Homo sapiens: one gene and its partner. The protein of the gene in region 1 binds, or shares a complex with, the protein of each later gene. Each region holds a gene or a part of one and is shown on either strand. Other genes may lie near its edges.

Region 1 (3,811 bases):
AACATGGTGAAACCCCGTCTCTACTAAAAATACAAAAATTAGCCAGGCGTGGTGGCACGCACCTGTAATCCCAGCTACTCAGGAGGCTGAGGCAGGAGAATCACTTGAACCCAGGAGGTGGAGGTTGCAGTGAGATTGTGCTACTGCACTCCAGCCTGGGCAACAGAGCGAGACTCCACCTCAAATAAATAAATGGGCAACAGAGCGAGACTCCGCCTCAAATAAATAAATAAATAATAACTAACTAACTAACTAACAGATCCATTTTCTCTTTTTTTCTTCCCAATAAGAAAGTTGGCCCTAAAATGCTGGATCATGAAGGAAAAGAAGTCCCAGGAAACCGAGGTTACAAGTACTTTGGAGCAGCAAAAGATTTGCCTGGTGTTAGAGAGCTGTTTGAAAAAGAACGTAAGTAAGTTTGTGACAGTTTTAGCCTTTCATTGGTAATAATCATAAGAGTAGATATGCTATATGCTAACTGCTCTTACTTTTTTTTCTTAGTTGCATAACAGCCTTATAGTGTAGGAATTATTGTTCCCAGATTTTAACTGAGAATTCTTAAGAACTGGGATAGAATCATAGGCCCATGCCATACAATTGGGGCTGGAAAGTGTGCCCAGGATTGGCTGGTGCAGGATTCTGCCTTTGGCAGGTGCTAATCTGTCAGTCTGGACAAGGAGTTTCCCTATTTGAAGTTTCCCAGAACGATTGGGGCAGGCTCTGAAGTTCATTGAATCAGGTCATGTTTCAGTTACTTATTAGTTGAACAAATGATAACCAAAGAACAAATACAATCTTGGGCCAAACCCTAAATGTAAAAATGGAGAAAAGTGAGGCCCAGCACTGTGGCTCATGCCTGTAATCCCAGCACTTTGGGAGGCTGAGGTGGGCGGATCACCTGAGGTAGGGAGTTAGAGACCAGCTTGACCAACATGGAGAAACCCCGTCTCCACTAAACATACAAAATTAGCTGGGCATGGTGGTGCATGCCTGTACTCCCAGCTACTCAGGAGACTGAGACAGGAGAATTGCTTGAATCTGAGGGGTGGAGGTTGCGGTGAGCCGAGATCGTGCCATTGCACTCCAGCCTGGACAGCAAGAGCGAAACTCCATCTCAAAAAAAAAAAAGGAGAAAAGTGGAGCTACTTTTGTGTGAATCCAAATAGGGCACACCCACCTTTCCTCCTTCTTTCAGCCAAACCTCCTGAATATAATTTGAAACTGTTAGTCTGGAGTTTTAGTCGGTTTTGATTTTGTGTTTTAGAAAGGTAGTCAACACTTCATAGGAAAAAGTATGAGAGGCAGAGAAGAATGATGCCAGTATTTTCACCATTATTAGCATTTTGTTATATCTCCTTCTAGTTGGCTTTTCTATTTTAAAAAAAATATAGTTCTATTTTTATTAAATGCTGCTTATTTTAAAATTCATTATTCCACAGCTAGTTTTGCATAGGCCACTACCATCCCTTAAAAATAATTCAGAGTTTAAATATTGTGCCATTAATTATGAAGGAATATATTTTTTACTACAGAGGAGTTATAGCCAGGCGCAGTGGCTCATGCCTGTAATCCCAGCACTTTGGGAGCCTGAGGCGGGAGAATCACAAGGTCAGGAGTTCGAGACCAGCCTGGCCAACATGGTGAAACCCTGTCTCTACTAAAAATACAAAAAAAATTAGCTGGGCATATGGCAGGCACCTGTAATCCCAGCTACTCAGGAGGCTGAGGCAGGAGAATCACTTGAACCTGGGAGGCAGAGGTTGCAGTGAGCCGAGATCGTCCCACTGCGCTCCAGCCTGGGCAGCAGAGCAGGACTCCATCTCAAACAAAAAAAAGTTATAAAATACAGAAAATCAGAAAAAAACCACTCACATTTTCACACCTCATATGTGATGATTGTTAATACATTAGGGCATTGTTCCCTCCAGTTTCTTTCTTTCTTTCTTTCTTTTTTTTTTTTTGAGATGGAGTCTTGCTCTGTTGCGCAGGCTGGAGTGTAGTTGTGCAATCTCGGCTCACTGCAACCTCTGCCTCCCGGGTTCAAGTAATTCTCCTGCCTCAGCCTCCCAAGTAGCTGGGACTACAGGCGCATGCCACCATGCCCAGCTAATTTGTATCTTTTTTTTGTTTTTGAGATGGAGTCTCGCTCTGTCACCAAGGCTGGAGTACAGTGGCCCAATCTTGGCTCACTGCAAGCTCCACCTCCTGGGTTCACACCATTCTCCTGCCTCAGCCTCCTGAGTAGCTGGGACTACAGGCATCTGCCACCATGCCCAGCTAATTTTATTTTTTTTTTGTATTTTTAGTAGAGACGGGGTTTCACCGTGTTAGCCAGGATGGTCTCGATCTCCTGACCTCGTGATCCACCTGCCTCAGCTTCCCAAAGTGCTGGGATTACAGGCGTGAGCCACCGTGACCAGTACTAATTTGTATTTTTAGTAGAGACAGGGTTTCACTGTGTTGGTGCCAGGGTGGTCTCGAGCTCTTTTTTTTTTGAGATGGAGTTTTGCTCTGTTGCCCAGGCTGGAGTACAGTGACGCAATCTCGGCTTACTGCTGCAAGCTCTGCCTCCCAGGTTCACGCCATTCTCCTGCCTCAGGCTCCTGAGTAGCTGGTACTATAGGCGCCCGCCACCATGCCCGGCAAAGTTTTTGTGTTTTTTTAGTAGAGACGGGGTTTCACCATGTTAACCAGGATGGTCTCAATCTCCTGACCTTGTGATCCGCCCGCCTTGGTCTCCCAAAATGCTGGGATTACAGGCGTGAGCCACTGTGCCCAGTACTAATTTGTATTTTTAGTGGAGACAGGGTTTCCCTATGTTGGCCAGGGTGGTCTCGAGTTTTTTTTTTTTTTTTTTTTTTGACATGGAGTCTTGCTGTGTTGCCCAGGCTGGAGTGCAGTGATGCGATCTCGGCACACTGCTGTAAGCTCTGCCTCCCGGGTTTACGCCATTCTCCTGCCTCAGCCTCCCGAGTAGCTGGGACTATAGGTGACCGCCACCACGCCCGGCAAAGTTTTTGTATTTTTTTAGTAGAGACGGGGTTTCACCGTGTTAGCCAGGATGGTCTCTATCTCCTGACCTCGTGATCCGCCCGCCTCGGCCTCCCAAAGTGCTGGGATAACATCCCACTGCTCCCGGCCGGTCTCAAACGCTTGATGTCATGATCTGCCCACCTCGGCCTCCCAAAGCGCTAGGATTACAGGAGTGAGCCACCTCGCCTGGCTGTTCCTTCCAGTTTCTAAAGGGTTGTGTTGGGGTGGCTCCTATATTGTGATTATGCTCTATATGTTAGGTTTTTTGCATTTACATTTTTCTAAATATATTTTTGCTTATTCCAGTGATAGAGTTTTGGGTTTTTAAATTTATTTTTCCTTTTTTGTCATCTATTGAAAAGATTTTTGTTTTAGAAAGAAAATGCATAAGTGAATTTTACTGGTTATAATTCAAATAGCACAGATAGAGTTAAAGTCCTCTTACCTCTACACTCATCCCAGTGCCCCTCCTAGAGGTAACTGATAACCATTATTATCTGTTTGGTATGTTCCTTTCCGGCCTTAAAAATTTTTTTATTTTTTTAGGCCAGGTGCGGTGGCTCATGCCTGTAATCCCAGCACTTTGGGAGGCTGAGGCGGGCGGATCACAAGGTCAGGAGATCAAGACCATCCTGGCTAACATGGTGAAACCCCGTCTCTGCTAAAAAAAAATACAAAAAATTAGCTGGGCATGGTGGCGGGCACCTGTAATCCCAGCTACTTGGGAGGCTGAGGCAGGAGAATGGCGTGAACCCAGGAGGCGGAGCTTGCAGTGAAC
Region 2 (3,811 bases), on another chromosome or scaffold:
CCATCTTAGCTCAGAGCCTGAGAGGATGGGAGGTGGTGCCAGTGCACTGGAGGAAGAGATGGTGGGCTGTTTATGGCTAAAAGGAAAAGATGTGATGGCGGGGGAGGCCCCTGGGTTATGTTCTTCATACCTGCTTTCCCTTTCGGCAGTTGCTCACCCAATCCGGCCCAAGCCTCCCTCAGCCACCAGCATCCCGGCCATTCTGAAAGCTTTGCAGGATGAGTGGGTGAGTTCCTGCAAGAGAATCAGCATCTTCCCCACTTGAAGAGAATGCATTGCTGGGTTAGGACTTGGGGGTAGGAAGGATGGAGCATTATTTAGAGGGTAAACTTTGTGACATCAGGGATTTGTTTTATTCTTCGTTGTATCCCCAGCACTGAGAGCAGCACCTGGTACATAGTAGGTGCTCTAGAGTTATGAATTGAATGATTGAATACATCCTGCAGGACTGTCTGGCACAGTGCCTGACACAACGAGGGCGATCAATAAATAGCAGCAGCAGCAGTGTTGTTATTCTCTTTTAGAGAGGGGACGGCATGACAGCTGGGATTTGCCAGTAAGTTAGGGAAGGTGGGGATGGGAAAGAGCTGGCTCCCACTCCTGTCTGTGTGCCCAGTGGTTCGCTTGGGGTAGGAGCTCAAGAGTGTCTGCCGGCACATTCGTGTTTGCTCGGATATTGTTTGGGTCACTGATACTGGTCTAGGCTCTGGGATAGGAGGCAGCATCCCCTCCCCAAGGGCTGACTCCACTGGGTACTCCCTGCACCCCCCACCTCACCTTACAATGATATTTGCTTCTCCCAGGATGCAGTCATGCTGCACAGCTTCACTCTGCGCCAGCAGCTGCAGACAACCCGCCAAGAGCTGTCACACGCTCTGTACCAGCACGATGCCGCCTGCCGTGTCATTGCCCGTCTCACCAAGGAAGTCACTGCTGCCCGAGAAGGTGCAGCCTCTCCCCTGCCATCCCCCACCCTGGGCTGGTTCTGCATTGTAATATCCCATTTCTAACATCGTCTTTTCTCTCAGCTCTGGCTACCCTGAAACCACAGGCTGGCCTCATTGTGCCCCAGGCTGTGCCAAGTTCCCAACCAAGTGTTGTGGTAAGTGTCCCCCTTCCCTTACCAGCAGCCCATTTGTGTACAGTGGCCCACAGAACTGTCCTTATGCAGGTGTCTTTGGTGCTCTGTGCCTCTCACCCTCACCTTTCTTCTCTTCAGGGTGCGGGTGAGCCAATGGATTTGGGTGAGCTGGTGGGAATGACCCCAGAGATTATTCAGAAGGTAAGTCCTGCTCTCACCTGGTGGGAGTGCTGATGGGCCCTTACTTTTCACCATCTGTCTGGAGTCCATCGTGACTAAAATCACTGTGCTTTTGGGAGTTGAGTGGTGCAGAGCATGGACCCTGGGACCAGATTGCCTGGGTTTGTATTTTGATGCCACTACTTGTAAGCTTTATGACCTTGGCTTACTTAGCCAACCCTTACGTGTCTCATTTCCCTAGCTTCTAAACTGAGAATATGATCATATCCACTGTATAGGCAGGCTGTGGGAATTTAAAAGATTTCATTACTGATAAGTGCACCTTTTAGCTCTTATTGTTATTGAGATTCTTTGCAGATAGTAAACTACTTTTATATATTTTCTTGTTTTTTTTCTATGAGGGCAATAGGATAGGAATTATAATCCTTATTTTGCAGATGAAAGACACATCTGAGAGGCAGAGCTGGGCTTCCTGATTGCAAGTCCAGTGGGATTCTCATTTGCAGGGCTTCTTAGTGTCTTTCTGAGCAGTTCAAATTGTCAGCATGTGTCTGAGCCCTTGGCTTAGTGGCGTGTAGACCTATGGGAGCTCTACAGTCCTAGCTTCTATTCTTGCTCTGCTGTTTATCACCTCTGCGACCTTGGGCAATTGACTTCACTTCTCTGAGGCTCAGTTTCCTCAGCTGTAAAATAAGGTCATCAACACCCCCCTCATAAAGCTGGGATGGAAGTAAGAAGAGAGAATGCCTTTAAGCCTGTAACGTAGAAGTTGGCAGATAGCAAGTTCTTGGTGCTGCTTTTGAAAGCACAGGTGTGACCAGCATCTAATGTACTTTTCTCCTTGCAAGATGATTTGTCTCACATTGAGCCTGTTCTTCCCCAGCTTCAAGACAAAGCCACTGTGCTAACCACGGAGCGCAAGAAGGTGAGTTCTCTTTCTGAAGCCTGGAGAAAGAGCTGGCCTGGTGGGAGGCGGTTGACTCCTTAGGAGAGAGAGGGCGGCTGAATCTTGGATTCATTGCTGCTCTTCTTTGGGGGCTTTTCATTTTCTCAGAGAGGGAAGACTGTGCCTGAGGAGCTGGTGAAGCCAGAAGAGCTCAGCAAATACCGGCAGGTGGCATCCCACGTGGTGAGTGTCTGGGTCTCCACTGTCTTGGAGACAGCCCTCCCGTTTTGTTTCTGGGGTGGGCGGGCCAGCATGGGGAGTGCTGAGTGCAGAGCTGTCCCAGGTTCCTGGCGCTGTTCCTGGTGCTGTTTCTCGCCTGGGCTGCTGAGTTGTCAGGGCTCCTCTTTCTGCCCAGCTGTGGGTTTCCTAGTGATGCAGTGAGGGAGTTACCGTACCAGGCAGATAGCCAAGAGGTATGGATAAGGAATAGAAGTAACTCTTGCTCCCCTGAGAACATGGGTGACTGGAGATGGCAGTAGGGGAGGTCTGTGGCTTTGTGGCCTGCTGTGATTTGGCCGTGACAGGGTTTGGTGTGTCTCTCTGCAAAGGGGTTGCACAGTGCCAGCATTCCTGGGATCCTGGCCCTGGACCTCTGCCCGTCCGACACCAACAAGATCCTCACTGGTGAGAGTCTGGGCCTAGCCCGGCAGGCCAAAGTGGGGAGGGGCAGCAGGGAAGGCGCATGCTCCTTGTCCTCTTCATGGGCATGGGAACAAAAGCATTTCCTTGAGCAAAAGGGCCTGGGTGGGCCTGACTCATTGTTTGGTCTTTTTGGGTCTTCTCCAGGTGGGGCGGATAAAAATGTCGTTGTGTTTGACAAAAGTTCTGAACAAATCCTGGCTACCCTCAAAGGCCATACCAAGAAGGTCACCAGCGTGGTGTTTCACCCTTCCCAGGTAAGGGGTTCTCCTCGCCACCCTTGGTTCTTCTTTCCTTGGCTGTTGTTTGTCCCTCACCCCGCTGCTGTCTCTGTGAAGTGGGGCTGGGAAAGAGCTCTGACTCTGACTCCTGAGTGGGCACTTGGAGGGGCTCACTTTGGAGTTGTGGAGATTGCCCTTCACTCTGCGTGAGACCTTCTAAAGCAGTGATCTTCCAGCCAGGGAGAGAACGGAAATGTGTAGTTTGACAAGCATATTCATTGAAATATTTCATATTAGGGAAAGAAAAAATCTTATAGTGTTCCTAATATAAACTACAGAAAACAAAGCTCAACACAATCTCAACTCACACTTACGAGGAGGACAGATATATCTGCTTTCCCATGATCCTCCAAGATGGGTAAAAATCATGTTGACTGTTGAAAGTGGTGTAGGTTGTAAACAGAACCTCTGGTTTACAGGGTAAAGGTAACTCATGGGACCAGATTAATGATATTATGGGATTCGAATTTTAAGCCTAAGACAGTTTGGGTTTGGGGCTGCAGGACATGGTTGGTTTAGTGCTTCGCAGTCAAGATTTCCCTTGGACCTTAGGGAAATGAGAAATATAAGAATAACATGGTGAATTTTTCATGACTAAATTTGTTCAAATTGAGAGCACTGTTTTCTTGCTTATGGGGTATTAATAGTTAGGTCTCATGAAATTGTATTGATAAAAAAAGATGG

The links.
Region 2: ISY1 (region 1) and PRPF19 share a complex: the UniProt entries of both Homo sapiens proteins name them as parts of the XAB2 complex.

What each region holds. Positions count from the first base shown.
Region 1 is NC_000003.12:129,136,965-129,140,775, reverse strand, and holds part of ISY1 (pre-mRNA-splicing factor ISY1 homolog), read left to right. Parts: intron 1-290; coding exon 291-408; intron 409-3,579; coding exon of another isoform or gene 3,580-3,645; intron 3,646-3,811. Other genes in the region: ISY1-RAB43 protein, read left to right, coding at 291-408. UniProt on the Homo sapiens protein: Component of the spliceosome C complex required for the selective processing of microRNAs during embryonic stem cell differentiation. Required for the biogenesis of all miRNAs from the pri-miR-17-92 primary transcript except miR-92a.
Region 2 is NC_000011.10:60,899,874-60,903,684, reverse strand, and holds part of PRPF19 (pre-mRNA-processing factor 19), read left to right. Parts: intron 1-149; coding exon 150-226; intron 227-803; coding exon 804-945; intron 946-1,028; coding exon 1,029-1,102; intron 1,103-1,219; coding exon 1,220-1,282; intron 1,283-2,144; coding exon 2,145-2,186; intron 2,187-2,315; coding exon 2,316-2,390; intron 2,391-2,755; coding exon 2,756-2,831; intron 2,832-2,993; coding exon 2,994-3,103; intron 3,104-3,811. UniProt on the Homo sapiens protein: Ubiquitin-protein ligase which is a core component of several complexes mainly involved pre-mRNA splicing and DNA repair. Required for pre-mRNA splicing as component of the spliceosome.